Linked DNA regions of Homo sapiens. The protein of the gene in region 1 interacts with the protein of each later gene in a pairwise test. Each region holds a gene or a part of one and is shown in the gene's direction. Other genes may lie near its edges. The genes, in order: POF1B, COL8A1, SYT17 and KCTD9.

Evidence for each region.
Region 2: the proteins of POF1B (region 1) and COL8A1 interact in binary tests that used the Homo sapiens proteins (3 or more experiments, as listed by UniProt).
Region 3: the proteins of POF1B (region 1) and SYT17 interact in binary tests that used the Homo sapiens proteins (3 or more experiments, as listed by UniProt).
Region 4: the proteins of POF1B (region 1) and KCTD9 interact in binary tests that used the Homo sapiens proteins (3 or more experiments, as listed by UniProt).

The regions. Positions count from the first base shown.
Region 1 is NC_000023.11:85,306,656-85,313,683, reverse strand, and holds part of POF1B (protein POF1B), read left to right. Parts: intron 1-5,467; coding exon 5,468-5,560; intron 5,561-6,407; coding exon 6,408-6,521; intron 6,522-7,028. UniProt on the Homo sapiens protein: Plays a key role in the organization of epithelial monolayers by regulating the actin cytoskeleton. May be involved in ovary development.
Region 2 is NC_000003.12:99,641,576-99,648,603, forward strand, and holds part of COL8A1 (collagen alpha-1(VIII) chain precursor), read left to right. Parts: intron 1-7,028. UniProt on the Homo sapiens protein: Macromolecular component of the subendothelium. Major component of the Descemet's membrane (basement membrane) of corneal endothelial cells. Also a component of the endothelia of blood vessels.
Region 3 is NC_000016.10:19,164,126-19,171,246, forward strand, and holds the start of SYT17 (synaptotagmin-17), read left to right. Parts: upstream 1-4,114; 5' UTR 4,115-4,521; coding exon 4,522-4,536; intron 4,537-7,121. UniProt on the Homo sapiens protein: Plays a role in dendrite formation by melanocytes.
Region 4 is NC_000008.11:25,441,419-25,448,446, reverse strand, and holds part of KCTD9 (BTB/POZ domain-containing protein KCTD9), read left to right. Parts: intron 1-2,196; coding exon 2,197-2,318; intron 2,319-4,111; coding exon 4,112-4,155; intron 4,156-7,028. UniProt on the Homo sapiens protein: Substrate-specific adapter of a BCR (BTB-CUL3-RBX1) E3 ubiquitin-protein ligase complex, which mediates the ubiquitination of target proteins, leading to their degradation by the proteasome.

The DNA.
Region 1 (7,028 bases):
CCAGCATCATCCTGATACCAAAATCTGGCAGAGACAGAACAAAAAAGGAAAATTTCAGGCCAATATCCCTGATGAACGTCGATGCAAAAATCCTCAATAAAATACAGCAAACTGAATCCAGCAGCATATCAAAAAGCTTATCCACCATGATCAAGTCAGCTTCATCGCTGGAATGCAAGGCTGATTCAACATATGCAAATCAATAAACATAATCCATTACATAAACAGAATCAATGACAAAAACCACATGACTATCTCAATAAAGGCAGAAAAGGCCTTTGATAAAATTCAACACCGCTTCATGCTAAAAACTCTCAATAAACTAGGTATTGATGGGATGTATCTCAAAATAATAAGAGCTATTTACGACAAACCAACAGCCAATATCATACTGAATGGACAAAAGCTGGAAGCATTGTCTTTGAAAACCGGCACAAGACAAGGATGCCCTCTCTCACTACTCCTATTCAACATAGTATTGGAAGTTCTGGCCAGGGCAACAAGGCAAGTGAAAGAAATAAAGGGGATTCAAATAGCAAGAGAGGAAGTCAAATTGTCTCTGTTTGCAGACGACATGATTGTATATTTAGAAAACCCCATCGTCTCAACCCAAAATCTCCTTAAGCTGATAAGCAACTTCAGCAAAGTCTCAAGATACAAAATCAATGTGCAAAAGTCACAAACATTCCTATACATCAATAATAGACAAACAGAGGGCCAAATCTTGAGTGAACTCACATTCACAATTGCTACAAAGAGAATAAAATACCTAGGAATATAACTTATAAGGGATGTGAAGGACTTCTTCAAGGAGAGCTACAAACCACTGTTCAAGGAAATAAGAGAGGACACAAACAAATGGAAAAACATTCCATTGTTATGGATAGGAAGAATCGATATCTTGAAAATGGCCATACAGCTGAAAATAATTTATAGATTCAGTGCTAACCCCATCAAGCTACCATTGACTTTCTTCACAGAATTAGAAAAAATACTTTAAATTACATATGGAACCAAAAAAAGAGCCCATATATCCAAGACAATCCTAAGCCAAAAGAACAAAGCTGGAGGCATCATGCTACCTGACTTCAAACTATACTACAAGGCTTCAGTAACAAAAACAGCATGGTACCGGTACCAAAACAGAGAGATAGACCAATGGAACAGAACAGAGGCCTCAGAAATAATGCCACACATTTACAACTATTGGATCTTTGACAAACCTTACAAAAACAAGCAATGGGGAAAAGATTCCCTGTTTAATAAATAATGCTGGGAAAACTGGCTAGCCATATGCTGAAAACTGAAACTGGACCCCTTCCTTACACTTTATACAAAAATTAACTCAAGATGGATTAAAGACTTAAAGGTAAGACCTAAAACCATAAAAACTCTAGAAGAAAACCTAGGCAATACCATTCAGGACATAGGCATGGGGAAGACTTCATGACTAAAACACCAAAAGCAATAGCAACAAAAGCAAAAATTGACAAATGGGATCTAATTAAACTAAAGAGCTTCTGCACAGCAAAAGAAACTATTATCAGAGTGAACAGGCACCCTACAGAATGGGAGAAAATGTTTGCAATCTATCCATCTGACAAAGGGCTAATACCCAGAATCTACAAAGAATTTAAACAAATTTACAAGAATCAAACAAACAACCCCATCAAAAAGTGGCCAAAGGGTATGAACAGACATTTCTCAAAATAAGACATTAATGCAGCCAACAAACATGAAAAAATGCTCATCATCACTGGTCATTAGAGAAATGCAAATCAAAACCACAATGAGATACCATCTCACGTGAGTTAGAATGGCGATCATCAAAAAGTCAGGAAAAAACAGATGCTGGAGTGGATGTGGAGAAATAGGAACGCTTTTAGATTATTGGTGGGAGTGTAAATTAGTTCAACCAGTGTGGCGCTTCCTCAAGGATCTAGAACTAGAAATACCATTTGACTCAGCAATCCCATTACTGGGTATATACCCAAAGATTATAAATCATTCTACTATAAATACACATGCACACATATGTTTATTGCAGCACTATTCACAATAGCAAAGACTTGGAACCAACCCAAATTGCCCATCAATGATAGACTAGATAATGTGGGACATACGCACCATGGAATACTATGCAGCCATTAAAAAGGATGAGTTCATGTCCTTTGCAGGGACATGGATGAAGCTGGAAACCATCATTCGCAGCAAACTGACACAGAAACAGAAAACCACACACCTCATGTTCTCACTCATAAGTGGGAGTTGAACAGTGAGAACACATGGGAACATCACACACTGGGGCCTGTCAGGGGGTGGGGGGCTAGGGGAGGGATAGCATTAGGAGAAATACCTAATGTAGATAGATGACAGGTTGATGGGTGCAGGAAACCACCATGGCACGTGTATACCTATGTAACAAACCTGCACGTTCTGCACATGTATCCCAGAACTTAAAGTATAATAAAAAAAGAAAACTCTAGAAAAGAAGGAAAACTTATTGTATTTACCATATTTTTGCTTACAATGCTATATCTTCCTTCTTAATATTCCAAATTCTTTCTTTTATGATTTTCTTCTCTTTAGACAACTTCTTTTAGCTATTCTTTAAGGGTAGGTCTGCTAGTAACAAATTATTTTCATTTTCCCTCATCTGAAAATGTGAATTTCCCTCCATTCCTAAAGGATAATTTCACTGCATATAGAATTTACAGTTGACAATTATTTTCTTTTAGTACTTAAAAAATAGTATCCTAGTTCCTTCTGGGCTTCATGATTTGTAATGAGAAATCTGTTGTCATTTGAATTGTTATTCCCAATAATTAATGTTTTTCTTGCTGCTTTGAAAATTTTTAGTTTGTCTTTAGTTTTAAGAAGTTTGACTCTGATTTGTCTGGTAATGGATTTCTTTGGGTTTATATTGTTTGGGATATGCTCAGCTTCTTGAATATGTATGTTACCAGGTTTTACTAATTTGGGAAACTTCTCAGCCATAATTTTTTTGAATATTTTTTCAGCTCCATCCTCTTTCTCCTTTCCTTCCAGGACTCTGAACATGAAAGCTAGATATGTGGTGTACACCCACAAACCCTTAAGCTCTGTTTAATTTTTTCTAATCTATTTGTTTCTGATATTCAGATTATATACTTTATTTTATTCTATCTTTAAGTTCATTAATTCTTTCCTCTGTTCTCTCCATTCTGCTTTTTAGCCCACTCCTTGAGAGCTTTGTTGTTTTGGTTTGGTTTTTGTTTCTTTGTCTTGTTACTGTCCTTTTCAGTTCTAAAATTTCCATTTAGGTATTCTTTATGTCTTCTATTTATTTGCTGAGACTTTCTATTTTGTCATTGAGACAATGTGTTTTTACAGTCTCCTTGCAACTTCTTGTTGAAGTATTTATGATGGTTGTTTTATACACTTTATCAGATAATTCTAACATTTCTATTATCTTGATGTTGTCATCAATTAAGTGTTTTTTCTTATTGGTTGAGATTTTTGTTGTTCTTGGAATTATGAGTGATTTTCAATTGACCCTGAACATGTCTGATCTTGTTTGATCTCAGAAGCTAAGCAGGATTGAGCCTGGCTAGTACTTGGATGGGAGACCTGGCCATTTTTATGTTGTGACTCTCTGGGTCTCATTCAAATATTCAAATATCAGAGAAAGTGTGTGCACTACCTATTACTGCCAGCTGGTGGTGGAAGTTGAGGTTCCCCCACTCAGCTTCTCTTGATGCGATAGGGTGAAAGCCCAAGCTCCCTTCACAGTCTCAACTGACATCACAGTGCATGGAATTTCATTTTTGGCCAGTAGGAATGAAAGCACCATTCTTCACTCTGTCTTTTCTGACACCATCCCAGTGAATGGTGTTGTGTACCTCCCTAGAGCCTGACAAGGGGGCAGTCTAAGCTCTCTTCTTGGCCTTTGGTGGTCCGTGTGGAAGTAGAGTTGCAATTTCTTCTGTGGTGTTTGGCTAAGATAGAGTGGTTACTATCTAAAAGTTTTCTGTCCTGCTAGGCTGACCCTTTCATGGTCCTTTGGTTAGAGAGAGAAGGCTTTTCTCAGGACTTTTGTTGTCCATTGATGTAACTAGATCACCAGCTTGCCCAACACTGATCTAATATATGAAGCAAAAAGAAAATCCAGGAACTCACTGCTGTGTCATTTCTCAGGTCCCAAGATTCCTAACCAATCATTTCTCTTTTCACCAATTTGGGTCTTTTTATATTTGTTTTATATATAATGTCCAGGGTTTTTAGCTGCAATTAACAGGAAGGCTAGGGAAAAGTATTTTTTTTCTTTTTTCTTTCTTTTTTTTTTTTGTGAAGCAACAAAAGTAGAGATTTATTGAAAATGAAAGCACACTCCACAGGGTGGGAGTGGGCTGAGCAATTGGCTCAAGTGCACAGTTATATAATTTTATGTGGTTTAAATGTCCTCTAGAGGTTTCCCATTGGTAACTTGGTGTACACTCTATGTAAATGAAGTAGTGGCCCGTTATCAGTCGGATTGGTTGCAGAAAGTGACCAATCAGAGGCTGAAGTTACAAAGTTAAACCTTAAACAACGTCTGATTGGTTGTGGAAAGTATTTTTACTCCATCTTCCCAGAAGCTGAAGTTGTCTGTTTTTTAAACCATTTTTCTTTAAAGAAATAAGAATAATCTAGTAAAAGAGTTTCCCCTCTCTTTAAAATTTGAGATAAGCCAGGTGCAGTGGCTCACACCTGTAATCCCAGCACTTTAGGAGGCCAAGGCTGGTGGATCACTTGAGGTCAGGAGTTCGAGACCAGCCTGGCCAACACAGTGAAATCCGTTCTCTACTCAAAATACAAAAATTCACCAGGTGTGTTGGTGCATACCTGTAGTCCCAGCTACTTGGGAGGCTGAGGTGGAAGAATTGCTTGAACCCAGGGGGCAGAGATTGCAGTGAACTGAGATCATGCCACTACACTCCAGCCTAGGCGACAGAGTGAGACTCTGGTAAAAAAACAAAAACAAAACAAAAAAAACCAAAAATATTTAGATAGCTCTATACTTTAAAGTTAAACTTAATTATAATTATATTCTTCTCACCTCAGGCAAAATTCAGGCAGTTGGCAATACACTTAGGGAGATTCATTTTATTATTTGATTATTGACTGTCTCATCTCTTCTAATCTTTTAAATAAAGAATAATGTAAAAATTAAATTTTGCTGATAGAATTCTACTTTGTGACAAAGATGATACTTTATCATGGAAAAAATAATAAATATTTGTTATAAATACTAGCTATGCTATCTTCAGGAATATTATTTGGATTACTTAAACACACTATTGACAAAATGCCTTATATCACCTTTCTAATTTGCCATATCAAAGTAAAATTATTAATAAGTTTGCTAGTAGGAAAAAAAAAACTTTCACTTATATTGCCTATTTTCAAATGTTAATAAAACTAAACCATTAATCCTTTCTTCCTGCAGATGAGGGGTATGTCTGATAAGTCACTCCGACTAGTGCTGTCCACATTTAGCAACATACGGGAGGAGCTTGGACATCTTCAAAATGATATGACAGTAAGATTTATTTTGATTTTTTCCAAAGCCTTTCTAGTTACTAGCTTCCTAATACAGAAATAAAGATGTCCAGTATATGTTTTTAAAATTTAATATAGCACAATATTATGCTTATTCAGACAAAGCTAAATTATTTTCTTCAAACAGTTAATTGGCATTGAGAGAGGAGAAAAGAGGTATCCAAAGTATAAATGAAAGAATGTTGGATGTGCACTTATCATTTAGTTTACCACTAAGGCAATTTAATGCTTAAAGCCAGAGAGTCATCTGCAAAGTTAAAATAATCTGACTCATTGGAGGTAAATTCCCCCTTTTTCATAATTATAAAGCATACTCTGAATTTCCATTCAAATATAATAACTTGAAAACATTTTTCTCCAAAAAATTAATTTTTTTCCATTTTCTATTTTAATTGGTGTTCTTGGTGCCATCAGCTAGATACATTCAGAATGCTTTCCACACATTGAATAATGCCTTGAGGACTTTGGAGTAGTTTTGTTGTTTCTGGGTTATGATGAACATATTTAGACTCTAATTTAAAAATTTACCACTCGCTGGGATTAACGAGGACTCTTTGTAGATTGGAGGAAAACATTAAAACATTTCAGAGGGTTGTGCTTCATTTCATGTATAGTTAGTCCATCAAAATGTCTCTTTCAATGAAGGTTTTAGAAGTTTCAATCATTTCCTATCCCGTATTTTCTTAACTTTTAAGAATTCTGCTTTATTAAGCAAGTACAAATGAAACAAGTGCTTATTTAAATCTTCCAAGGTAAGCAAGTCTTTGTATTATGTGACTGTTAAGTTTTTGCAATTCTGAATCATAATAAATAATTTATGCTTCTAGTCACTGGAAAATGACAAGATGAGACTTGAGAAAGATTTATCATTCAAAGACACTCAATTAAAAGAGTACGAAGAACTCTTGGCATCAGTGAGAGCAAATAATCACCAGCAGCAGGTAAACTGATGCTTTTATTGGTGTTAATCTACATTGATAGCTTTTCATATGCACAATTACTGGCACATTGGAGTTATGAGATATAATCAAGACAGAATTAAATATGATGGAAAAATTTGTTCATATGAGAATTGAGTGGCTTTGGGTATTTCTAATGGCTGAAAGCCCTCTCAGAAAAACAGATAATCTTATCTATTTTAGATATAAAGTACATATGGGACACAATTATTTGTCTTGTTGGGTGACCAGAATTGTAGAAATACTAAAAATCTAGGTTCATGCATTTATTTAATGTACTAACATGTCAATGAGAAAAGCTGTTGTAGACCTTAATACATGTTTGTGCAATAAATAAATGACTGAAAAAACTCTAGATGAATTCTCTGGATGTCTGAGCAGAGAGAATTCCTAGGAAATTGTAAGTAGTCTCTAAGGATTACCCTCTTCCTGATCTTTACTCCTATGGCTGTCCCAAATTCTTGCTCAGTTACTAGTTGTCATGTAAAT
Region 2 (7,028 bases), on another chromosome or scaffold:
TAAGTCTCCTGAAAAGTGTAATGTTGAGTGCTTATTTGTAAGTTAAAAGTTAGAAACAGCAATTTACTCCTTATCCATGGTTACTCACTTTGGTATGGAAACTTGCAGACAGATTGAGACACACCGTATTTCCTAAAACCTCTGGTCCTCCAAGTAACCCTCTGGGAGCTAGGTGTTTCTGCCTTGACCTCCTTCTCTTCAACCAGACCCCTATAAACATACATGTACATAAGTTAAAGAAGGTACAGATCTTGAAACTTGAGTGTATTCTTGTGAAAGGTGCACTGGTCTAACTATTGAGTGAAAAGAAAACCAAAAGGAGAGGAGAGGAGAATTAAGGGGAGAATGAATGCCCTTTGGAATTTAGAGAATCTTTCTTTTTAGCATTGTGTGAAAAGGATATCTCAATCCCTAAAGCATCTGGGAATACACATTTATTTAAAGAACCTGTTCAAAAGTTGTCACAAAATGCTAAGAATATAATGAAGAAGATCTTCCAGTGACCTGGCAGATATTAACAGCAGGTTACACCCCACACTACTAAATTATAGCTCTATTAAACTTCCCCTTTCTAGAGAGATAAGGAGTGAGAAGTATGAGCATTAACCACATTTCAACACAAACAGAGAAAAGCTGCTAATGAGAGATCCCTCTATCACTTTAGTAACTCCATTTGTTGTTTGAGGGAGAAGGTTCTTCATAGTTTTTCCTCAAGCAGATTTGCAGGAATGGGGTTAAAGGGAGTCACACAAGGTTAGAATGTCTACAAGCCTGAAGTCGTGTGTACTCAAATTCATGAAGCCATTGAAATTGCATCAGATCAAACTGAAGTGAATAAAACAAAAAGTGTTCACCAAAACTGATCACAGAGTAATCAATAAAAATAAAAATAATGAATTCTAACTTCTCAATGTAGGATAAGAGCAAAAGCAACAACTTTAGCTGACTATGTAAAATATGAACACACACCTGACAATTCACCTTCGGTGTCCTCTATTTATTTGGGGCTCACTTCCATCGTCCCTCCTGGACAACAAAAACTGACCCTTCTCTCCTTCAGCAAACCTTTCAGGATGTGCAGATGCAGTCATAGTCCCTCTGTGACATTTCCTTTGTTCTTTCCCTGGAAAAAATCTCTTTTTAATTCTCATAGAACAAGTTTCTAAAGAACCACTCATACTTGTGGCTTCTCTCATTACCAAAAATTTCCTCATACTTCTCTTAAATAGGATATAAATTTTCACCCTATCAAATGTAAAAGCTTCACATTTTTCTAAACTTTAATTCACATACCTAGAAGAAAGTAATTTAAAATTGCTACTTGCCTCCAACAGAATATCTGAGATGAGGTTTCAAAGCCATTTTACTTATCCAGTACTTATTATAACTTCTTGGAAATTAAAAAAACTTTAGAGAATCATAAAAGATAAATGCTGGAAAAGACCTTGGAGCTAATTGTAACTAAAAGTTAATTTTACAGGTGCAAAAGATCAGAAAGATTAATGTCTTTCCCCAGGCCACCCAGATGAGTACAGCACACCCAAGGCTGGAGTTCATACAGCCAGTTTCTCCAGCCAGTGCTTAATCTTGAATAACTGCAGTGTGGCTCCTCGTATAATGTGAATCTAAGGTGTCTTTGACTATGCTGAGCATTCCGTAGGCACTTAACATACAGGGCTCTCAGAAACCATAGCTTGGTAGAGGTTTGGACTACAGCTATACCTCTACTACCAAATGTCTAGGACACGTTGACATAAATTCTTGTGAAGAGTGAAGTCAATGGTCATCACCATCACAGGGATGGTATGTTTTTAACCAGCCCAGGATATGGTACATAGTAGCTGCTCAGTAAATCTGTGTTGAGTGGGTGAATGAATGGGGAAAAAAGCTAAGTATAAAATATCCATTTTCCTAAACTCCTTTCTTACTTGTAGAAAATATAGTCTATAAAACTACTTTCTACAAAGTAATGGATTTACAAAGTAAATTTTACTTCGTAGAAAACAGTCTATACAGACATACAGTGACTCAGGTCTCAAATGTATTGAGTTTAAGATTCTCCCTTGCTTTGGGAAATCTAGAAGAGTTCATTTTAGCCTTAGCAATGGCTAAGCCGTTTTCCTGTCTGCAATATTCTCACTAGTTCTTCCCATATTTACTTGAGTTCTAGAAACTGTATTATTTTTTACAGGAGGCTTAAGATCTAGTTCCAATATTCATTTGAGAGAACAAATGAATTAGAATGTGAGATTTACAGCGTAACTCTCCTCTTCCACCCAACAGACAAAGTGTTGCCAATTTAACCATTTTGTACCTTCCTCGGCCTCTAATGAGAGAAAGAGCAAAATACCCATAATGGATAATCAGGAAAAACATTAAGGGACACATCAGTCAGAATGTGTAGGTATGAGATTTGTTGTAACAGAGGGGCAGAGGGGAGAGGTGATCAAGGGACTAAGAGTATAGAGACAAGACAGTGAAGCTAAGAGAGTTTATTCCTCTGAAACAGAGGAGGGAGAATCTCCAAGAGTTTTGAAATGCTACAAGAGATTTTAATAGCATTGTCCAAAACCAGACCCTCTCAAATGCTTGAGAGATGACTTTCTGTTTGAGTCAGGGTTCTTTAAATACAACACTAATTGAAGCCTGGATGACACAGGTGTGAAAGCTTTATAAGTACCATATCTATTAAAACTCTTCTTATCATTTGACTGGCCCTCAAGTGGGAAAGGAACCTCATTTCACCTCCTTTTAGACTTGACTCTGACCCAGGATAATAACTCCATGGATGTCAAGTCATTGAAATGTTCTCTGCTAAAATAACAACACAATTATTGGTAACACATAAAGTCACTCCATCATAGAAAGTGACGAAGGCAGGAAAGAATATTCTTGTATTGTTTCTGTAAACAATTTACCCTGAATAAGCAGACAGATGTTAGCCCAGATGCTTCTTCACTTTCCTCTGAAGCATGCCTGACAATTATTTCCATATCTCCGAAATAGTAAGTGTGTTTCTAAAATCGATCTATTATATGTTAAATTTAACACAGTCTATGGCTAAGCATCACTGTGAAAACATTCTTTTAAGTAAGTCTTTCTTGAAGACTGTCCCTCTTAAGCTTCCAATTGATGTGTTTACATCACAGGATATTTAGGCATTGGATCATTTGATGTGCTGAGACTGAAGACAATCACTTCATGTGCTACTTTTCCAACTCTAACTAAATAGGCCTGGGTGTGGGTGTCAGCTGTCAACTTCTCTAGGAAATAACATGTATCTAGCCTATTGGGGAGCTTCTCTAGTCCCCTCTGTTAGCTAGATAAAACAGCTGCTTTTTGGAAGTCTGGGCCAATGGCCTGCATAATTGAGGCTTTGTGTTCTAAGGCAATTATGGCTAGTTTATGGCAGCAGAGGGGTTAAGTTGCAGCTGCCTTCAGTTCAGTAGGAGGATTTCAAATATTAACAGCTGACCGAAGAGCACTGTGATGGGGCAGGTGGGACGCATTTTCAAGCCAACATCCCATTTAGGATCTTCTTCCAACTAGCATGGTGTCTACACTCTGACGATAAGCCTAAACTTCATTCATAAATTCAGTGATGATTGTACATTATTGTATTTCTTTAATGATCTACTTAGCGATTGCCCAGTCTTAAAGTCCAGGAGTCATGGTGTTCATCAATGCTATCAATCCAAACAAGCGACTTCTTGTTAAATGGCAGACATAAGATTAAAGCCAAAAAGTACATGAAGGAGGGCACTAGGGGGAGCTAAGAATTTGTGAGTTAGGTAGCCAAGATTGTTGAGGTTGGAAGAATGAGGAAAGAAAGGGGATCTGTGGCAAAAATATGCTATTGGATCCACAGTTCTAGTTTAAGGACATGTCTAGTCCCTTTTCCAGCCCCCAGTTAATTACAATCCCCTGCTGCCCAAATGGAGAGGGAGGTTGTTCACCAGTAGAGGGAGCCAGGGGCTGGGTGTCTCAATAGAAACTGATCTGGTCCCAGAAGGGGCCTTTAGATTTAAGTTTTTCGGATCGAAGGCAGAGCAAAGTGTCCCTTACAACCAATGGCTAAAATGTATGCCATTGTAGTAGATCACATTGTTAGTTTTCTTTTTAAAAAAAAAAAAAAAATCCTAATTTAAGCCTCTAAGAATAAATCACCCACATTTCTGGCATTAGCAATGCCTGAAATGTCCGGGCTTGTGGAAGTTTATTTGAAAGAAAACTAAAACAATCTTAGAAAATGTTCTTTCCAAGGCTACCACCAGCCAAGACTGAATCTAAATGCTCAATTCAGTAATAAACAAAGCCTGGCAGCTGGGGGTCAGTGAGAGACAAGCACAAAGACTGAGGAAGCCTGCGGTGACTAGACCCTCCCTGTCAGTGGAGTAAGGGGAAGGGAGCTGGGAGAAAAAAAGACAGAAATGGGCCAAATAGGCTTCTCCACCCAGAGGGTCCAGAACCTGCTCCCCTAAATCTGGGTCTCTCCAGGGAGCAGCCAGGGTCTTGCCTAGACTGAAGTGAATACCTTTCTGTTGAACATTTCCATTGCACAGCTGTGTGGGGATGGCTTGTTAAGACTTGAGACACTTGCATAATTCAGAACCCTTTGGGGGATAGAGATCAATTAGGACCATAAAAAAAATCCTTGGCACACCAGAGGAGAGCTGCTTGCTTAGTAAAAATTATGACATTCACAGCAAAACAGCAATCCTCTAAGATCATTTTTTGTGTCCATAGAGATGAAGCTATGGAGTTGGTGTGCATGTGACTTGTGAATCACCAGAAAATCTTCAGTGTTTTAATTTCAAAAACACCTTGACTCTCTCTGGGGCAAGGGGCGTGTCACTGATCGTCTCTGTGCCTTAATTTATTTATCTTAAGCAGAACAATTTTTAAATAACTACCTTCTTTACCACTTAGAGACATGTGAGGTCCTGTCAAGTATTTTTCAGAAAGATACTAATTAAGCATGCATTTTACGGTTACTAATTTAGTACGGTAAATGGATTATACTTACAATAACTAGGAAGGGCTCAAAGTATTTATACAAAATCAGTCAAAATGGGATAAAATGTCAAGTAGCCACATAACCTTCCAAGATATAGCAAGAGCATTTTTGTTTCTCAGAATACAGAGGTCAATCCCACATATCTCAAAAGGCCAAACAAGATCAAGGGTAAGTGGAAAGTAAAAAAACAAATAATAATTAGAAAATGGCTTAAAGAGTCTTAAAAGGCTTATATTCTTACCAATCTGTATTTTGAGACCAGCCAAAGGGGAATTTCTCACATACAATACAGGGTTTCTGATCTAAAAACTCTATTTTAACTGGAGAAAGATAACTGTTTAATAATGACTTTTGTATAAAATCTCTGCATCCCTTGCTTCAACATTTTCCAAAGTGCATTTCAAAACACTGCTACCTGGGATTCATCAGTGTTTATACAGAAAAAAGTTCTGTGGTCAAATAAGCTTTAGAAACACTCAATGAAACAATATTAAACATTTTTATTCACTGTATGGCTTCACAGAAATTTTTATATGCTATATATATTTTCATCCTTCAAAGATGTTACAATCGAGTGTTCCTTAAACATTTGATGACATATCTACCCTGCCTGAGCGCATCTCCTGGGACTGATATTCTACGGAACAGCTTAAGAATAGTTTAAGAATCACTTCCTGCAGCATTATTTCAAGATCAGTCAGAACATGGTATTTTCAGTCTTGCTAGTTGTTAAGTAATACATACTGAATGTCACTCTAAGATATGTAGAGAGATTTCTAAAACCCAGGGGAAACAGGAACAAAAGAAGCAGATAACATGCCTTTGTTCTATGGCTCAATTCTTTATTACAATAATAGCAAGAATGCCAGAAATATTATTCAAGTCTCTCTCTCTCTCTCTCTCTCTCATATCTTCAACCTCCACTTCTACCCAAAAAATCTTTAGAACACTGGACAAATTGAAGTTGTCTCTTCCTTTCCATCCCACTCTCTGGATACTGTATAGAGAGAAGCGGCCAACAATGAGCAATAAGTTCAATAAACAAGGAGCCTAGATAATTCTTTGAACTAGCTCATCAGTCTCTGAGCTGTTAATTTCCTGCTTTATCTTTACTATCATTAACTAACCAAGATCGTTGGCCAAATATTTTCTTTGAGCATTTGCTTTCTCACCATCAATAGGGAGCTAATTTCTGTAGGAGGAACACACTGATATTCTGGTGTAATTTACTGAATGAGGAATTACTTAGTTTATCTATGACACTCAGACCTCCCACTCCATACAATTTACTATTTCTCTTAGGACATTACTCTGGGAATTATCTTTCCACTTCACAAAGTTAGTGCCTGGAGGTCAGTATCCCGTAAGTGGCACAGTTGAGCACCCTCTGCTTTCAGAAAATAAGTAGCTCATAGTCATCTAAAGGAGAAGGGAGAAATTCAAACACATCATTAATGGTTATAATAATAAAAGCTATTTGTTATCTAACAGGACCAGATATTGTGCTAGTCCCGTTATCTATATTCCCCATGTCAACCCTACAAGAAGGGTGTTATTATTCCCAATTTAACGATGAGAAAAACTAAGCCTCCACTCGTTAAGCAAATTGCCTAGGGCCACACAGCTAGGAAGAGGCAGAGCAGGTTCTTCTATCCAGGTCACAGTCCAAAGTCCATGGTCTTCCTGCCCGCCTGTGCTGCTTCTCATGATGTCTTGTCCTATCATGGAGGAAAAAAATAAAAATAAACTTCCTATGACAACGCCTCTGACTCATAAAGAAAGTGAGAGAATTCTAGTGGCTCTGTTCCTAGACACTGCTTACTGGCTCTGTTTCTTGTTTAATACAGTGATTTTAATTTCTTTTTCTTTTTTGTTTTTTTTAATCTAAAAGCATGCTGTCATTTCAGAGCCAAAAAAGTAAGGACTGTGTAATTAGAAAAGAAAAAACAAACAAACAAAAAACAAAACAAAACAAAAAACATCATTTCTCCCTAGGGTAATTTTTAAGGGC
Region 3 (7,121 bases), on another chromosome or scaffold:
GTCATAATGGAAGGAAACACTAAATTTCAGAAGGAGGTTGGTGACAATGGTGATGCAACTTTTTTTCTTTCTAAGTTCATGGACCTTCCAAATAAGCCCCACTCCCCATCTTTGGTTCTTTGGGACTCAGCTTAATGTCAGCCCCTCTGGGAAACCTTCTGTGATCCTTCATCACACGAGGTTGGGGCCCCTCACCTGTAACCCCACAGTCCCCTGAGCCTCCCTTTATCACACCACAGGTCACATATAATTCCATGCATTTGTCTACCTCCCTGATTGGGGCCTTCTTCATTGAGATCTGTAAAGGTGCCAGCTTTGCAGGCACAGCCTTGATCTGAGTCCAAGTTACATTGAAAAGCTGGACTTCATGTCCCCGTGAAAGGCAGGAGAGGCTTGCAAAGCAGTGGGATCCTGGAACTCATTGACACTCCCCTGATGAAGGACTTAAACTGATTTCTCGTCCATTCTTTCATCTGACGATGGTGCAGCCATGATGAGTTGAGACTTTATTGCTAACCAGACCTGCATTTTTGTCCTGTCCCTGTCTCTTGTCACCTGTTTACCTTGGGCAACTCACTTTGCTTCTCGTCTCAGGATTTCAGTTTCCTCACCCGTAAACTGGGGACCATGACAGTACCCACCTTGTAAGGCTCCAGTAGGGATGAAACAAAAACAAATGTGAAGGGCTTAACACTCAATCATAATAACCAGTTGTCTGAGAGTTGAAAGTGTCCATGTTAGCTGTTGTTGCAACCCATTTGCTCATTCAACAAGCATTTATCAAACACCTATTTTGCCAGGTGCTTTGCATACATTTAAAGCATTTCATAATACCAGAGGCAGGTTCTATTATCCGCATTTTAAATAACCTCTTCTTTTGCTCGAGAGGTGCTTAGTATTCTTGGACAGTTTCAGGTCATAAGGGATTAAGGTACCAAAAAATTCTGGGGACGGGGTCATCCCCCTCCTCCAAGATCAGGCATTATTAGGCAACATGGTGCAGGGGCTAGGGAAAGGATTCAGGTTTAGGTTTGAATCCCAGCTCCTGGAAGCCACACACACCCTGCAGGGCAGACACATTTGACGGCAATAATTGAACTTAGCTTACCCTGCGAACGACCCTATGGTCTAAGAAGAATGTGTATTCACAGTTCAGAGCTAAGGAATCCGGGAGTGGCCAACCTGGAGATTCACTCCTTATCTATGAAGGATGTCTGGGTCCCCTGCCTATCCCTTGGAATGCAGGCTGTACAGGCAATTGAGGCCCTTGGTTTTGGGTTAAAGAGCCAAAACCCTTGGTTAAAGGGCCAAAAGGAAGTTGCTTAGATAGAAGGTGCTAAGCGAAAATGCTATATAAACTGCATGCTTTTTATATAAACATGTTTTTTATATAAACAATCGAGGCCCTTTGTTTTGGGTTAAAGGGCCAAAAGGAAGTTGCTAGGTGGAGGGTGCTAAGTGAAAATGCTACATAAACTGCATGCTTTTATATAAACAGTAGAGGTTCTCCTGTCCAGCCAGCTGCCACTGGATTGTCCCTGTATGTAAGTTCCCTCAATAAACCCTGTGTCTCGTTCACTGTCTCTAGGTCTCTTTTTTGGCCTCCTGGACATGGTACTATTCCTAAAGGAGTTAACAGTGGCCTGGCATGACACGCCTTGGGCAAATGACTTCATCTCTTTTTTTTTTTTTCGAGATGGGGTCTTACTCTGTCATGTAGGCTAGAGTGCAGTGGTGTGATCTCAGCTCACTATAGCCTCAATCTCCTGGGCTCAAGCGATTCTCCAGCCTCAGTCTCCCAAGTAGCTGGGACTACAGGTGTGAGCCACCAATGCCGGGCTAATTTTTGTATTTTGTAAAGAAACTTTTTGTAGGCTGGTCTTGAACTCCTGGCCTCAAGTGATCCACCCACTTTGGCCTCCCAAAGTGCTGGGATTACAGGCATGAGCCACCATGCCTGGCCAACTTCACCTCTTAATGCCTCTTTTTTTCTCACCTAAAGAGTGGGATAGTACTTGTGCCTACCTCATGGTAATCAGAGAATTAAAAGATCAAAATTTGTGTAAAGGGCTGAAAACAGTGCCTGGTACACAGACCTCAAAAAGGGTTAACTTTTTTTTTTTGAGATGGTATCTCATTCTGTCACCCAGGCTGGAGTGCAGTGGCACGATCTCAGCTCACTGCAACCTCCGCCTCCCAGGTTCAAGTGATTCTCCTAGCCTCAGCCTCCTGAGTAGTTGGGATTACAGGCACCTGCCACCATGCCCGGCTATTTTTTGTATTTTTAGTAGAGACGGAGTTTCGCCATGTTGGCCAGGCTGATCTCGAACTCCTGACCTCAGGTGAAAAAGGGTTAACTATTTTTACTTATGGGAACACCTAGCAAATTCCTCGAACTCCCTCAAGTGCCCCCAAGGAGCACCCGTTCCAATAGGCATCCTCCTCTGTGAGGCTCACTCCCCACCTGGCATGCCTTGCCATCAGTGCTGGAGAAAGATTGTGGATAAATACCACAAAGTGGTTAGGAGTGGCCACTTTGGGTTCACTGCTGGACTTGTGGGTTCAAATGTCAGTGCCCTGGGCTACCAGCTGTCAGGCCTTCATAGAGGCTTTACCTGTCTGGGCTGCAGTCCCTCATAAATTGGAGATAATCATAGCACCTCCCTCAGGAAGCAGAGTGAATAAGGCAACAAAAACAATTACTGAGTGCCTACTCTGGCTGGACAGGTGCTACCTAATAGGAGTGATCAAGGTACTGCAGGTTGAAATGAAATAACGCTTGTGAAGTGTTGAGGCGTGTATGCCTGCAGAATCATAAGCACTCAATATGCGTTACGTGCTATATGCTACAAACTAAATATATCATACTAAAAAATGTATAGGTCTGCTAGATTTTTAGACAAAAAATATATGCATCTGAATATCCATCTTTTGTTACTCCCATATTCATTTTCTCATTTATTCCCACAAATCAGCCCTGGAGGATAGGCAGGGTGGAGATTTTCTCCTGTTTTTACTGAGGAAAAAGAGGCACTGGGAGGTTAAAATTAAAATGCTGATAAGCTGGTGTCCGGCAACAGGAGATGACTGGGCATATTAAAAAGAAAACCGGCCCGGCGCAGTGGCTCACGCCCCTAATCCCAGCACTTTGGGAGGCCGAGGCAGGCAGATCACTTGAGGCCAGGAGTTCGAGACCAGCCTGGCCCACATGGTGAAACCCTTTCTCTACCAAAAATACAAAAATTAGTGGGCGTGGTGGCATGTGCCTGTAGTCCCAGCTACTCGGGAGGCTGAGACACGAGAATCCCTTGAACCTGGGAGGCGGAGGTTTCAGTGAGCCAAGATTACCCCAGTGCACTCCAGCCTGGGTGACAGAGTGACACCCTGTGTCAAAAATAAAATAAAATAAAATAAAATAAAATAAAATAAAATAAAATAAAATAAAATAAAATAAAATAAGAAATCCAGCGGAGGGCAATGTTCCACCTCGAATCTCTGAGTGGAGAGCCAGAGGCCTTGGGCTGGGAGGTTTGATGGAGGCCTCTGGGTCCAGGGCGCCCCAGCCACGAGGACAGGCAGGAGGGCGGCGGTGGACACGCCCCGGGGCGCACGCTCGCTGGCGGCCGCCTGCCCGTGGGCAGAGGAGCGCACGAGGCCGGGCACGACGCTGGGTGGCGCTGCCGGGCCGCCCCGCGCTAGACCTGTTGCGTCCAGGGCGCAACTCCGGCAGGTTTAGGGTAAAGGGGCGCTCCGCTCTCTCCGCGCGCCCCCTGCAGCCCTGGACGCAGCACCTCCGTTTGGGACGCCCTACGCCCACCTTAACTTGAGGCTCCCATCCACGCAGCCTCTGCAAGCCTCACCGCAACCGTGCTAGGCGCGTCGGGTGGGGCGGGAATAAAGTTTTTCCAACCCAGTTTGGGGAGAGGGCTGGATGGGAAGGACCCTCCCTGCTGCAGACTTCATGGCAGGCTGCACTGTGTCCCCTCGGCTCCACGGCTGCCCCGGGGGCGCTGCTTTCGGTAGGTGCCAGCCCCCGTGCCAGCAGGATGGGCTGACCTGTGTACCGCCCCCTCCCACCCCCTTCCCCATTCCCATCCCCTCCCCCGCCTCCTGCGCGCTCCGGCCCCGGCGTCTCCGGCCCCGCCTGCGCTGGGGTCGCTGCAGTCCCCGCAGCTGCCCCGGGCTGCTTGCCCAGGCGCCCCGGCCTTATTCCAGCCTGGGGAGCGCCTCGGTGGGGAGCACGGGACAGCGAGGGAGGCCGAGGCGGGGGCCCTGGGCGCCCGATATCTCCGAACCGGGGAGGCGGCCCCGATTCCGAGAGCCGGAACGCAGGGAAAGGCAAGGACGGGGCGGCCGGCGGAGGGGCGGGCGCCGCTCATCAGCCACGCCAGTCACGTCTGGGGCCACCGGCTGCCTTTTTCTTCCTTTCCCCCTTTGCTTTCTTCCCCCTCCGCTGTTGGCGAGGGCAAAGTGGCCGTGGCGGCGCCATGCCCGGGCCGGAGTGAGTGCGCGCGGGCGAAAATGGCGTACATCCAGGTAGGGCTGAGGCTGGGGGCAAGGTCCGGGGTGCGGGTAGGGGGTGCCGCGCCCCCTCCGGCTGGGAGCGCGCGGAAGGGAGGGCCCACGGCTAGGCTCCCACAAACTTGCTTCGAGAAAAAGGGTGCCCGTGCGCGGGCAACCTGTGCAGCAACAGGGGTGCGCCCCGGGAGGAGAGACTGGGGACCCCCAAACCCCGGGATGGAGGGTCCTATGTGTACTCTGCAACGCGCGCCCTTGCCTCTTGGGGAGGGAATGGGGGGTGGGGCGGACTTTTCTTCTCCCCTGCCCCCTCCCTCTCCTTGGCACCCCACCCCAGGGGAGGGGCCGTGGGGAGGGCGGCCCGGGGCGCGCCAGCCACCCGGCCCGCCAGCTGCCGTTGCCGTGGTGACGGCTCCGGCTAATTGGCCGGCGGAGCGAGCCTGAGGCAGCTGTTCCGACCAGGAGGGACAAGGACGTCGTCTCTCCTGGGCACTGGGTGCTGAGGGGTGGGGGACACCCAGAGGCCAGAGGCGCGCTGGTGAAGAGAAGGGAGCCTGTTACTTTACTCCGCTGCATTGGGGTCTGGGAGATGTGGACCCTCTTCACCTTGAAGAAACGTCCCCCAAGAATCCTTGGGCTGAAATAATTCTGAAATAATTTCTAAGCAGCCTTTTTTGGGGGGAGGGGGCGGAGGGGTGGGCCGGGCTTCTTGGTGAAAAGACCTTTCTCCTCTGCAAGAAGGGAAGTGACCGCAGGTCAGCGCCAAGGTCAAGCAGGCAGACCCGCAGTGAGACCCGTTGAGCTGCTTGCTTCTGGCGCTGGCGCCTCTGAGCTGGGCAGAGAAGCTTACAGACTCCCACGTCCAGGGTGCATCTTGGCTCACATCTTGTCCCCTCAGCCACAGCTGGGGGTGCTGCTGGTCCTCCCATTCCCCTCTGGGTCACATATCCCCTCATCGTGTCCTCAGACGCTTCAGCCTGCCGGGAACTCTGTGCTGTGTCACCTGGCGGAGCCTCTTCCATTCATCTCCTGCCTTAGATTCCCTGAATTGGCTTCCCTTTCGTGGAATCGCCAGTTTCTCTTCAAGTTCAATGAAGGTCACATTACTGTCCACCCACTGTGTGCTGAATGTTGTCCAGGGGCTATTGAGTAGTCGCCCAACAAACACTTGGGCGACCGCCTACTAAGTGCTGGCACTGGGGATACAGTGATGAAAACAGCACAGTTCCTGCCCCTCTGGGTGCGCAATTTAGTGAGAAATGAACATGATTACCGGCTCCTGGAGTTCTTAATGGCCGCCTTCAGCACAGAGAAATTAAGTGACTTGCCCAAGGCCACATAGCTGCTTAGGGGTCAAGGTGGGATCTCAAGAGGGGACTGTGGTAGATATGTTAAGCATCTCATATGGCGATGACCCAGTGATGTTGGTTTTCCTTCTAGAACAAGGTGTTAAACTTTGTTGTCCTGTAAAGTGCCAGATACTATTTTTTTTCTCTTGGAGGCTCACATGGTCTCTGTCACAACTATTCCACTCTGACTATAGCACCAAAACTGCTATGGACAGTAGTAAATGAGTGGGCGTGGCTGTGTTCCAATAAAACTTTATTTGCAGGCACCAAAATTTGAATTTTGTATACTTTGCACGAGTCAAGAGGCATTCATCTTTTTTTTTTTTCAACCTTTTAAAAACTCACAAATTATTCTTAGCTCAAGGGCTGTAGCAAAACAGGCTGCGGGGCTGGTTTTGATCTGCGAGCCTTAGTTTGCCAACCTCTGTTTAGAATGCATGGGTTGTCTTTCTTCCTCTTTCTTTCTGGTGTGAATTGGTTCTCTTCCATCGGTGTCAAACACGTGAGCCCAGGAGACCCAATGCCAGAAAGACTCAGCATGCCTGGGAATGTCAGGGCACCCTCTTTCATCTTCTTTGCTTTCTCTCTGCTCCTTGACACTCATCTTGCACCTGGGCTTTGAGAAAGTTGGGGAGGCTGTTTTTCAGCAGGGCCATGAGGTGACCTTGTCTCTGTTCACTTTGGTTTCATAAATGGCCTCTTTTGACCACCACATGTCTAGGAAATGCTTCCCTGTATTCAGAAAATGGTCATAGATTATTATGAAAAAGTATCACTTTATCCTAACATTCTAAAGCACTTTTTCATGCAAGCCCTATGAGGGTATAATATTTTGCTGTTTTGTGCCCTGCTGTACCTGCCGGGACAATACCCAGTGCCTACTGGGTTCCACTAGGTCTTGACAATCACCTAATTCTCATCACAGAAAGGGTGCATTTTATTTTTCAGCTGGACCGCACGCAAGTATTTGCATAGTCAGTGTCCTGTCCCACCTCAACAGCACGCCTTTGAGGTATAGAGTAGCCTTTCCACTAAAGAAGAGGTAACCGAGGCTCAGAGAGGCCCCCTGTCTTGCCCAAGTCACATGATCAGTCGATGGTGAGACTAGGACTCTAGTACTTCCTGGCTCAGCTTGTTGCGTGGCCCCTCAGCACCTTTGGGTCTTGTTCTGTGTATGGTTTGAGTTTTGGCTTTAGAGAGTTTGTGATAAGTGCCTTTGACTATTTCCCAAGCTGTTGCTATTCCCTTACCACT
Region 4 (7,028 bases), on another chromosome or scaffold:
TCCAGTACTTGGTCATCATCCCAAACAGAAATTGTAACCATTAAGAAATAAGTCTCCATTCCCATCTATGCCTTGGTAACCTTTATTCTGCTTTCTTTCTCTATGAATTTGCCTGTGTTGGGTACTTTCATGTGAGTGGTATCATAGAATATTTATCCTTTTGTGACTGGCTTATTTCATTTAGCATACTGTCAAAAAGGTTCATCCATGTTGCAGCATGTGTCAGAATTCATGTCTCTTCTCTTCTCGCTTTGCTTTCCTTTCCTTTTTCTTTATTCTTTCCTTTCCTTTCCTTTTCTCTTTTCTTTTTCCTTTCCTTTTTTCTTTTCCGTCCCATCATGTCCAGGCTGGAGTGCAGTGGCGTGATCTTGGCTCACTGCAGCCTTGAATTGGCAGGCTCAAGTGATCCTCCCATCTCGGCCTCCCAAGCAGCTAAGACTACAGGCATGTGCCTCCATGCTTGGCTACTTTTTGTATTTTTTTGTAGAGACCATGTTTCACCATGTTGGCCAGGCAGGTCTCGAACTCCTGGGCTCAAGCGATCCACCTGCCACAGCCTCTCAAAGTGCTGGGATTACAGGCATGAGCCATTGTACCTGGCCTCATTGTTTCTTATTGCTGAATAATATTCCATTGTATATATATACCATATTTTATTTATGCAATTACCTGCTTATGGACACTTGGGTTGTACATTATTTTTTATAATGCACTTGGTTCCGCTTAAATTTTTCTTGCCTTCAACACTTTCCAAAATGCCCCAGCACTCTTCTGGCTTTCATCCTTCTGATCCAAGAGAAAAAAGTTAGAATCTGAGTACTCTGCTTTTGAAAAACTGCACACTCGTATGTTATCGAGCAGCTTTTTCCATGTCCTCCATTTACTGTATTTATTTAACTAGAAACTGTCCACTCTATTCCAGTCACTGGTGGACAGAGGACCAGCCTTAGTGCTCACTTCATATGGCATCTTGACATAATAAATCTTGGGACGTCCATGAGCTAGCTGACTGTGCTTCGTGTTTAGCTCTTCACCTACTTATTTTTCTTTTTTTAGCGGGGAGACAGAGCCTTGCTTGGTCATAAAGGCTGGAGTGCAGTGGTGCAACCTTGGCTCACTGCAACCTCTGCCTCCTGGGTTCAAGCAATTCTCATGCTTCAGCCTCTGGAGTAGCTACAGGCATACACCACCACACCTGGCTGATTTTTGTATTTTAGTAGGGATGGGGTTTCTCCATGTTGGTCTGGCTGGTCTCAAACTCCAGGCCTTAAGTGCTCTGCCCGTCTCAGCCTCACAAAGTGCTGGGATTACAGGCATGAACCACTGCGCCCGACCCTTACCTAGTTTTTATTCCTAACTTTCAGAGGTCATAACTGATAATGGTGCAACTGCACAACTCAGTCGCTGGGAACCCATAGTTACAGTTAGGACCAGGGCACAAAATTCACTTACATGTAGAAATTCTCAGCACCCTGCTTAGACAGTTGCATGTATCTTGCACATATATCAGACTGCTTGATTCACAGCAGGACACATCAATTCATTGTCACCCAGCTGTTTGCTCTGTTCTTAAATGTTAGATGCTAAAATCTGGCTTAGTTAGTGAAGAATTAAATAAATGAGGTGAGAAGTTATCTTTTCTGTGGTAGTTGATGTCGTTAATGATATAATAAACAGTACCAGCACACTCCTGTTCTAAGGATGAACCATTCAAATAAATAAATAATAAAAGGACAACATAATAGGGACTTACTAGGTCTCAGGCACTTTGCTAAGCTCTTATGCATGAACTCATTTCATAATACCTTCTGAAGTAGGTGCTACTATTTTCTTCATTTCTAGTTAAAGCAACAGAAGCATCAGTAGGTTGACTCAAGTTGACAGCTAGAAAATGTCAGACTCTAGATCGAAGTGTAGGTCTATCTTACTTCACAACTGGAGCGCTATTTAACACACCTTAGGATTGTAGATTGTTTTGGTCAGAGATGATTTCTTATGTTCTAGTTGAGGAGTCGGCAATATTAGGCACCAAGTGAATAAATGAGTCATGGAAGAAAAGGGGGCACTGTTAAGAACCTTTTGAAGTCTCCTTTTATATGATAATCTTTTTAGCACTGTTCTAGTGTGGTAGTTTATAACTTATGGGGGATAACATGTATTAAAGAAATTGTTCATATTATTCTGGTGTGTTTACAGGTGGTTGCTGTATATGGAACTTTATCTGATTTGCTTTCTGTGGCCAGCAGTAAACTCGGCATAAAAGCCACCAGTGTGTATAATGGGAAAGGTGGACTGATTGATGATATTGCTTTGATCAGGTAACCTTCACCTTTTTATAAGCTGTCAACAGTGTGCCTCAACTTCTTGGTGCTATGCTGTTTCCCTTAAGCAGTAATTTAATCACTGTTAAGAGTACAGGATTTTGGCAAGTGTTTACCTAGAATTTGCTCTTTGGAATTTAAATCATTTGGGCTTAAGGTGAATTGATCAGCTAGAAAACCCTTAGTACATTTCAGTATACTGATAGTCTTTCTGCATAGTTCATATATAGCTATGAGGAATTTCTTCTTTGTGGTACTAGAGAAGGATCTAGTAAGACGTGCAGTTTTTAACATTAAAAATCTAATTCATCTCTTCACTTTTATATGCGCCTGCTTGTTAATCATTTCCTAAGAATGCTTTGCATTTTATAATCATTACAAAGGCCAGATTTTGTAAAAACTTTATAAATATGATAGAATTCTAAGTAGTGATATCACCAGTGATCCACCATAATTATAGGCTTATGTTTGTACCTTAAATATCTCAGGCAGATTTATCTCTTTAAAACAAGTGTGTAGTTCACCTTACTTCATCTTCATGAGGTCAGAGAATTTTGGAGCAGGAAGATGCTTAACAAAGAAGATGGTAAAGGGAACACAAATTAAGTATTGACTATGCCACTTATGTTATCATTGCTTTGCCTGAGTTATACCATTTAATTGGCAAAACATGAGTTTTTTTTATCAGTGATGTGAAGATAATGATGCTTTAACCTATAATGATATACAAAGTCTCTGTATAAATCTAGATCAAAATGACCTTTCAGTATAATATACTGCTTTGCAGTTAATCAGTTCTAGACCCTTCATTTTACAGATGAGGAAACGAATTACCTGTGAAGCTGAGGACTCACTCAGGTCATACAGCTAGTTGGGTTTTGTTAATGAAAACAGATTTTTATACTAATCTGAAAAAGTAAACTGGCATGGTGAACAAGTAGGAAATACTATACACTACATTTTAAATCCAAATAAATTAGGATAACTTCTTAGTTTTTCAATATGTATCTCCCAGCTTCTTTCAGTTTCTAAGGAAAACTGAGTCACATTGTTGGATGATGATCCTCATCAACCTAACTTTCTTCTTAACAAACACGAACTCTGCTTCTTAGAAAAATTTAACGTGTCCTGTGATGTCCTATAGGAAATAAAAACGTCTACAATGGAAGGTTATAATTGAAGCCTTCTGAGCTATAAGATATCTGTTTATTCATTTTTGGTTCACAATACAGTATCTGGGGTAATGGGTTGAGGAAGAGGATGTGCACTGATTGTCCAGAACTCTGGGTTATGTGCAGCCATTTACATTTGGGTGTATGGTGGATGTGTAGTGGGTAAACACTGACAGTAGAGTTACTTCCAGCTATATTTTTCCTAGATTTAATATGACAGTTTATTTCATCTCCAAAGCACACAACAGCTGATGATTTAGGGGTAAAAAATGTAAAGAAAAAAAGAATAGTTGGCTGTGACTTTAATCTATCCTTTCAGCATAATTATTCATTCTCAATTGATAAGAAAGCTGAACTCAACATCGTTTGTGTAAGGAGATTTTTTTCCCCACATTTCAAAAGTACTTTCATGTGCAAGATCTTATTTTTGAATTTAAATTCAAAGACAGTTAAGTTCAAGGGGTTAAACAAAGCATTGGAAACTTAGCTTCTTTGCAGTCTAGATTGATAGCAAAACCTATTGTCTATATAATTGTAAGGAATAGTTCCTATAAGCAACAGATAATTAATGTGATTTTTAGATTTTGATGGTAGCTTTTTAAATTTTGATTTCCCCAGGGATGATGATGTTTTGTTTGTTTGTGAAGGAGAGCCATTTATTGGTAAGTGACTTTAAAAGCCAATTTTATCTGCCAAAAAAAAAAAAAAAAGATGGAATGACAATTATTTTAAATGGGGCTATTAAGCTTAAACATTAAAAATGATCTTATGGCTGTATTCAAATCTTCACACTTTTTGATTCTGCATTGGGTATGTTAAAGTAAATTTTTTACTATATGATCGTAGTTTATTATAGATGCATGTTTTACATGCCGTTAAAATGCTCTGGAGGTATACATATTCATTAACTGTAACATAGTAAGGTAGTTTTGATCTTAGAAACAATTGTTTTGTTTGAAAATTTTTTCTTTGATGGTGAATGTCAAAATTTTTCTACGTGTTGTATTACATATTTGTGAGTAAATATTGCTTGCGTAAGTAGTGTTTGACAGTATTTCACAGTGATCAGATCAGCCAAAAAATGACTTGGTATCAACCACACACACAGGTGTGCACACACACTACCCTTTGATTTGGAAGAAAGCTTATAGTTGTATATCTCAAAAGAAAAGGCCGAAAGGAAGATAAAGTATTTGATTTATTTAGATCCATACAGTCCACACTCTGAATATTTAAGTATTTTTTAAAGCATCATACTAATTGCATTTGGTGAGTGGAAGTAGTTCTCACGATTGTTGCACAGGCAATTGTCAACTTAGAAGTAAGTGCATACTCTTGTCTGTCTGTCTCTACCTTAAAACTGTAAGCAAGAACTTCTCATCTTCTTTTATCCATTGGCCTAACAGTGACTGGCAGGCAATGGTCACTTAATTGGTCCACTGCATACAAACACAATAAAAAATGATCAATTAAGGTTTTTTTATTGTTATTAACTCATGGATTTAAAAATATTTGGTATATTTTCATCCTCTGCATTTATTGATGTTCAGATGGTCTTAATTTTTTGCCACTGGAAATCTCTTCGGGTCTTTTTAACAAACCTTGTTGGATTTTATGGCTTTCTTATTATCTGGAATAACTGGTGTTCATCTTAAAACCTTTTCCTGTCTCAGACCTGGATCAACATTTTTCCAACAAGCCTTGATTTTTTTAGTGGGAAGTGTCATTCCAAGACAAATCTGGGTGCTAGGGAGGCTCTTCGCTATTGGGTTCATTATTGTTGCTATGCCTTTTGGTGGACAGAATTGAAAATATATAGGTAGAGATAAAATTTGTATATAATGTATGTTATAGGATATAAAGTTTATATGTCATATATAACAAAATATGGATAGATGAAATAACTCATGGCTTCATAGTAGTACTTAAAGTTTATATTAAGGATTATAAGGTTTTTACTTATCCTCTTCTGTCTTACATCTGTGTCTCCTTTTTCTATATCAATAGTCCTGACTTTCAGGGACATGGAGACTAATAGAATTATAATGTCACATAATTACTCATTTACTTTACCCCATACAGAACACATCTAAAAATGTCAGAGTAACAAACTCAATACTTTCAGTACCAATATAATTACTAAAAACAGTTAAATGTTTTTCATATGCTAAATCCCTTCTCCCCTTACTTAAAAATAATTGTATTGTTTCTGAATTGTCGGAACATATAGCCATTGTATATTATAGTGTCTCCCTTTATACACTCATTTAGTTTTACTTCTTCAAGCGTACACTTACCTCCAGTCCTTTTGTTATGTTTCCAGTGTTTATCTGAAACTTGTTCTCTAGTAGATTTCTCTCCAAGATACTATGAGAACAATATTCGGTGACATCTTCCAATGGCAAGATGCCATTGCCATCCACCATCTTTATATAATTTTGGTATAAAATTATATGTCAAAGCTTATTAAATTATAAACTTTAGTATGTGTAACTTGTTCTGTGTTAATTATACCTCAGTGAAGCTATTGAAAAATCCTTGGTTCACATTATTTTTCTTTGAATATCTTAAATATGTTACTGCATTTTATTCTGGCCTGAGGTGTTGGTCTCAAAAAATCTGATCTTTCTTATGTGATTATTTTTCATAGATCACCCAAAGGATATTTCTCTTTCTTTAAAGTACAGTAATTTTAGTAGAATATTTATTGGTGTTCTGAGTTGTTCTGGATTGGTTTTCTCAGTATGTGATGGATCCTTTCAATATATAGTTTCAAGTGTATGTATTTTAAAATTTCAGTACAGTTCTCTTGAAGTTGACATTTTTATTTTGTTCACTTTGATTTGATTTCCTTCTTTCAGGACTCTATTGTATGTAGGGTGGATCTTTTACACTTGTCTTTTATGTTTGAAACTTTCTTTTCCTTTCTTTTTATTTTATTTATTTTTTTGAGACAGGGCCTCACTTCATCACTCAGGCTGTAGTGCAGTGGTATGATCTTGGCTCACTACAGCTTCAACCTCCTGGGTTCAAGTGATCCTCCTGCCTCAGCCCCCAACCAGGAGCTGGGACTGCAGATGTGTGCTACCATGCCCGGATAATTTTTTTGTATTTTTTGTAGAGATGGGGTTTTGGGGTTTTGCCCTGTTGCCCAGGCTGGTCTCGAACTCCTGAGCTCAAGCAATCCACCCGCCTCGGCCTCCCAGAGGATTATAGGCATGAGCCACCACGTCTGACCATTTCTTTTTAATTTTTCAAGCTATTCTCTTTTTTACCTTTTCTTTCCCTTAAGTCATTGTCTATTGTGTTTAATCACTCTTGTATTTCTTTTGCTTTAGTCTTTAAAAATCATTTTTCTTTTATTTCTAATTCTCTTGGGAGTTCTTGCTACTCATTTCTGAATTTTTAAATCCTGGTTTATATTGTTGTTTTATACCTTGTATAAACTTCTTTTAGCATGTTTTGGAATATTAGATTATAATTTTGATCTATTTTGTGGGTATTTCTGGCATGTTTTCATTATCTATAAGGACAA